Homo sapiens: one gene and its partner. The protein of the gene in region 2 purifies or fractionates together with the protein of the main gene of each other region. This does not show direct contact. Each region holds a gene or a part of one and is shown on either strand. Other genes may lie near its edges.

The links. Proteins that work in one complex are often made in the same cells at the same time.
Region 1: the proteins of PPP1R12A (region 2) and EML4 fractionate together in Homo sapiens (co-fractionation; one large-scale study listed by BioGRID). This does not show direct contact.

What each region holds. Positions count from the first base shown.
Region 1 is NC_000002.12:42,298,268-42,301,927, reverse strand, and holds part of EML4 (echinoderm microtubule-associated protein-like 4), read right to left. Parts: intron 688-3,660; coding exon 536-687; intron 1-535. UniProt on the Homo sapiens protein: Essential for the formation and stability of microtubules (MTs). Required for the organization of the mitotic spindle and for the proper attachment of kinetochores to MTs. Promotes the recruitment of NUDC to the mitotic spindle for mitotic progression.
Region 2 is NC_000012.12:79,773,016-79,775,690, reverse strand, and holds the end of PPP1R12A (protein phosphatase 1 regulatory subunit 12A), read left to right. Parts: 3' UTR 1-2,123; downstream 2,124-2,675. UniProt on the Homo sapiens protein: Key regulator of protein phosphatase 1C (PPP1C). Mediates binding to myosin. As part of the PPP1C complex, involved in dephosphorylation of PLK1. Capable of inhibiting HIF1AN-dependent suppression of HIF1A activity.

The DNA of each region.
Region 1 (3,660 bases), on a different chromosome or scaffold from region 2:
AACTAGATTGTATAGCTTTTATTAACAAAGGATATGAGTTATCTGTGAAGAAAACAGTGATGGAAGTTGCATTTTCAGTATGAACTGAAGGTTGTGATTAAGCAACTCTTTATTATCTATCTTCCTGGAAATAAAATCCAAGAGCAGTACTATCAGGATCCTCTTTTTAAGAGGATTTTCCAGAAGATTTTCTCTGGAAAGAATGCTACACGTAGAAAAAAAAACACTAAGCATAAATCCAAAATATAAATCACCAAAAAAGAGAAGAAAAATTAAACTTTGTGACATTTGCTCTGGTTTTAACAGGCAAATTATTCTGCCTAATCTTTAAAAATAGTCTTTCAAATTATTTTAATGGTCTTTTTTTTTTGAAAAAAGTTATCTTAAAGGCAACAACAAACTCCTTTCTTGAGGAAAGGAAATGAAATTATAAGAATTTAATAAGTTTGCCAGAAAAGTATAAGTTATCTTAATGTGGGACAAAATACCTGAGTTTAGAGTATTTAATATTTTTATATTCCGTTTCCATCCTTACCTCTATTTCTCTTTCAGGATTCAGATCATGATCCCACAGAATTATTTTTCTGTCTTTCCCTCCTCCAGTTAATAACATCCCATTTCTCATCTGACAAAGTGTGAACACACTGCCATCATGAGCTTTGATTTGTTTGCTGATTTGATATACACCTAATATGAGGGAAAAATAAAAACACTAGTGATAATACTTTTCTTCAGATTTTAGTGTCTATTTGGAAGAAAACTTCAGTAGAACTAGAGTTAATAATCAGAAAGTTCATATGACTCAATCAAAAACCTATTTTCAGCAAGTCTTTTGTGCAAAGCAGGTAGTAAAGTTTAGGGTATAATACAATCTTTTGCATTTCTGTCAATATTTATTTACTCTGAAAATATTTCAAAATATTTTCCTACAAAAAACCAAAGCAAAAGTAGTGATAATTCCACAGACGAAAGGGGATATAGTATAGGTTTCAGAACTTTACTATCTCTCATAATCATCTTGTATGGTAGCTAGGGTAGGTGTCACTCTTCTGATATGAGAGCTCAAGACACAAGAGGTACAGGAGCAGCTTAGGGGATACCACATAGTTAGCTAATAACAAAGCTGTGACTAGGCTCAAGTCTCCCACCTTGATGTTCCTTTAACTTTGCAAAAACATCTTTGGTTGACCTTCTGAGGTAACAGTCACAACGTTTAACGTTTTACAACCATTGTTAACCCAGAGGCCTTCTGCTGTGCCAAGGATTACTCCCCTTTATTTGCTGAGATATGGGGGCACTACAGAAGTTATTGGGACAAAGGTAGGCAATGGATACCTGCAGTGATGGCTTTTGACCTACTAGCAGAGAATAATTTCAGTATTTTAAAAATTGATTCAGCTGTACCAATGTGATGGCTAAATAACAGCCCAGTTTTCTTGTATACCCATAGCACACTTTGTTAAGTACCCAGGGAGAGACCAAGGGGGTACATAAAAGGTCTTTTAGGCAAACACATGTGGTTTTTTAAATTATATTTTGCCCCCTTTTAAGGGTGAGAATAAGATGATAGTACTCATACCTTTTTCTTTGGTATTCATAAATGCCTTACTCAGAGAAGCTCTTTAGCTAGATAGGCTAGCAGAGCAAGAGTAAAGCTTTTTGGAAGATGATGTCCTACAGAATTAGTTACCAGGTTCAAAATGGGAAGGTAGAACCTTATTGAAATATGGCCAAAGTAAGTCAATAAACAGCCCTTAGTCCTCTTGAAAAAATTCAGGTTTAACAACTATTCATTTTCTAAAACTGTTCCTCAACTGATGAATAGATTTTAAAAACACAGTATGTCTATACAATGTGATATTACTCAGCCATAAAAAGGAATGAGGTATTGACACATGCTACCACCACATGGATGAATCTTAAAAACATAATGCTAAGTGAAGGCTGGGCACTGTGGCTCACACCTGTAATCCCAGCACTTTGGGAGGCCGAGGTGGGTGGATCACCTGAGGTCAGATGTTTGAAACCAACCTGGCCAACATGGCAAAACCCTCTCTACTAAAAACACAAAATTAGCCGGGCATGATGGCACATGCCTGTAATCCCAGCTACTTGGGAGGCTGAGGCAGGAGAATCGCTTGAACCTGGGAGGCGGAGGTTCAGTGAGCCGAAATCGCACCACTGCACTCCAGCCTGGGCAACAAGAGTGAAACTCCATCTCAAAAAACAAACAAACAAAACAAAACAAAAAAAACTAAGTGAAAGAAGCAAGTCATAAAAGACCACACATTGTATGACTCCATTTATATGAAATGTCATCAACAAGTAAATCTATAGAGACCTAAAGGAAATTGGTGGTTACCTAGGGGCTGAGGGGAGGGAGAAATAGAAAGTGACTACTAATGGGTACAGGCTTTCTTTTTGGGGTGATGAAAATGTCCTTAGGTCAGATAGTGGTGATGGCTGCACAACCTTGTAAATATACTAAAAACCACTGAACTTAAAGGCATACTTCAACAGGGTAGATTTCATGGTATGTGAATTATATATCGAAGTTGTTACTGAGATTGTTCTTTTTTACTCATCTATTTGAGCTGCTATTATACTTAACAAATTGACTAAAATTTCTAAGGCTTTGGTATCCTAAAAAAAATTATGTCTCAGTTTGAGTATGCTAGTGGTACAAATACTTAACAGATGGGTATATATGGCAGGGAGACAGGAAAGGGCTTGCTTGATTTGGAGGAGAACTTGCCCAATTCAGCAGAGCTGGAAGTAGAACTCCAACAAACTTGCTGTTCAGGTCAACTGTCTCCACTTACATCAATATTTATCATCTAAAAATACCTTAAAAATTGAACAACACAACTGTGTTCACTGGCATAGGTAGATAAGTATCTATCTCTGTTCTGATGTTACCACGAGAGGGAGGACACCTGAGAGATGAGAATTTTCTGAGAGTACTACTGGCTTTATTTGGATAATAAAAATAGAGAAAAGCAAATTCTAGGCTTATTTCCCTGTGCATGGTCAAACTAACAAGAGTAGCCTGAAGGTATCATGTAAGAAAACACAAAAAGCAAAGGTGTGGGAGTTTCATAGTTCTCTATCAGAATGTAAGAAAATAAAGCTTTTCTATGCTTAAGTCTGCTTTCCGTATTTCTAAACATGACAAAAACCTTGTTAAACACTTAAAATCCTCCCAGAATGATGGAAAACTGGAAAAAAAAATGAAGAAAAAAATGCTTCATCAGAAATAAAAATACTCTATATAGTGATCAAGTCAGTGAGTCCTTCTCACTCCAGGAAAGTTATTTCCTGAGGTGGACCTAGTATCGACTTAGCTTAAAAAATTTAGTGTTTCTAATTTAAACAAATTATCAAAGTTTCCTTTATATAGTATTTACCTGTAAAACAAATTTATAGCCAAAGATGTCTTTCTTATGGGCCTGTATTTCTGATATTTCAGTTGCCAAATAATGTTTGAAATCCCTGCCAAGGAAAATAATTATCCTTGAATTAAAAAAACCTACTCTGCCTTCAGGCTTACTCATATGGTCAAGTCCATCCAAACTTAATCACAAACCTCACCCTTTCTTCTCATCTCTAACAGACACAAAGCTTCCATAAAAAGCAAGTTTACACTGCCTGCCAAATAAA
Region 2 (2,675 bases):
CAGCTGCTGAGAAGATTTTTTTTTAATGACTGAGAAAACTTGTTTACAGCTCCAGCATATAAGGAAAGTGTTCAAGGCCAGATATGCCTCAGATATTTAACCAGTAAGCCTTAGTTGTACATAAATACTTTTGTGTCAACAAAAACTTTCAGCTCTCACAGAAGACAGTTACTCAACATTTTTTGATGTGCCACAGTTTCGAGTTTTTCGATATTTAAATTTTTTGGCTTTTCATCTAAGTTTGGGTTTGTATTTTTTCCTTCTAAACTCTTCATGTGGCAGAGTCTTCTATGTTTTCACAGCTTTTTCATTACAGAAAAGAACACTTGCTCTTCTGTGATTATTGTCATGTATTAGGCTAATGCTGTGTTGTCTCCCACCTGGAACTGAATTGCTTGGTGGAACATATGCTTTCACTGTTTGTGCAATATGCATTTATTTCTTATATGAATGCTTTAAAGTCATTTGAGGTTAGATCTTTTAATTCCTATTTTCTGCTTCATTGGTCACTTTTTTTTTATTGTAGTATAAGATGTTAGATTCTGTAATCTTCACATTCATTTTAGCAGGTACTGAGTGATGCTGTATATACAAATAAGTGTATTGTTTTGATTTTTAGACCACCACATGGCATGCTTGACTATTTCTTATTTCAAATGTCTGCTAATGCAGAGTAGGCTACTCCATGATAGTGTTAAAAAACAAAATTTGCTAACAATGTGATATAAAGACTTTAAAAGTTACACATTATGTGGAGCCCTATCTTTACAAAAGTTTCCTACTGTAAAGTGCTTTTATTTTCAGTTTTCACTTGATAGTACTCAACCATAATTAAAGTTGCATAAGATAATTGCTTTACATTTCACATACCTATATTTATCTGAGTGCTGTCTAAAACTGTTGTGCTAGCCAAAGTAATGCTATGAAATCATTTGCAGAATTAACCCGTGAGTTAATGTTAAATGCACTGTTATTGCCATGTGAAGAGGCATCGACTTTGATACCACCATCATGTTCAGACCATTTTATACATTTCAGTGGCCTTTTTTTTTTTTTAAGGAAAAAAAAGCGCAAAACCAAGTACATAGTGACGATGGCTTTTATTTGGACAAATAGCTTTTATATTTTCATTAAACCATGCAAAAAATACTACATCTTTCTGGCACATAACTGTCTCCTTAACCACTGAACAGTTCAGCCATTTGAATAAATTGTACATTGTAAAGCTTATAGTAGCTGATTGTATTATTGATTGTATTGTATACTATATTAAATGTGAATTTGTACCCCTTCATTTTAAAAGGTCATTGTGTTCTACTGCCTATTTTAGATTACTTTGGGGTTGGGGAAGGGTGTTTTGGTAAGCAGGATTTTAAGTCCTCTCTCTCTCGATTGGTTTTATGAAGATATAAGGTTATGCTCTTACTACCAAGCTCAGGATTCTTGATTTTAAAGGTACAAGGATAGTTGTGGGAGTTTTATTTTTGGTTATATTTGAACTGTATGAATGGTAGGTCTGAATATTGAGAATTTCCATGGTCTTATGTGGAGGTAAAATATACAGATAACTGATCAGTTTGAGTGACTGCAACATGTTCTGGTTGCACAACAGTTAGGCATGCTATGGTTTATATTTGTGAAGTTTGGATGCCTGTGAAGAATGATTAAATACATGTTTCTAATATTTTAGTGTTTTGTATTTAGGTTATTTATTCTTTGTATCTAAAACTGAACAGCTACTGTGCTATATTGATTTTATTGGTAGTATTGAGCAGACCTTGTTTCTGCATGAAACTAGTTGCAAAACCCACTATTTTGGAAATAAAAATGTATTTTGACATATACAAATAAAATGAATAAAACTATTTTAAATGTGTGAACTTTTAATGAAGACATTTTAAATTTTGTTCTGAGATATTTAAATTCTGCATGGGTATTTTTTCACTAATTGCTTTACTTGGATACCAATTTGAATAATTTCTGAAATTGTAATATTGTGATAATTTGCACAGCATTGTACATGCACATCTGTAAATGCAATCTTAATTGCCATATTTATGCAATCTGTGTACCAATTTGGACAAATGTTTATATATTTTACATAAAGCTGTCTGTATGCAGAATCTGAGAACTAGTTTTTTTATGATAATAAGTGGGTAAAAATTAATAACAGTGAGTTTCAGGGTAGTTGCTTTGTAGCACAAGATTTCGCTTCCATAAACATTGTTTTTTTTTTTTTTCTTAAAGTAAACCTGTGCTTTTTCTTATCTGCAAACATAGGCTTAGCGATACATATAAAGGTAATATTCCATTGAAACATACAGTTTACTTTAATATTAGATCATTTTCCAATTTAGATTTGTCCAAGGTTCGACCTGCTAACACATCTATAAATAAGAGGCACTTTTAGCCAGGCATGGTTGGGAGGCCCAGGCGGGAGGATCACCTGAGGTCAGGGGTTTGAGACCAGCCTGGCCAACAGGGCGAAACCCCGTTTCTACTAAAAATAAAAAATGAGCCAGGTATGATGGTGCAATCGCCTGTAGTCCCAGCTACTCAGGAGGCTGAGACAGGAGAATCACTTGAACCAGGGAGGCAGAGGTTGTAGTGAGCCAAGATTGTGCCACTGCACTTCAGCCTGGGCAACAGAGTGAGACTCCGTCTCAAAAAAAAAA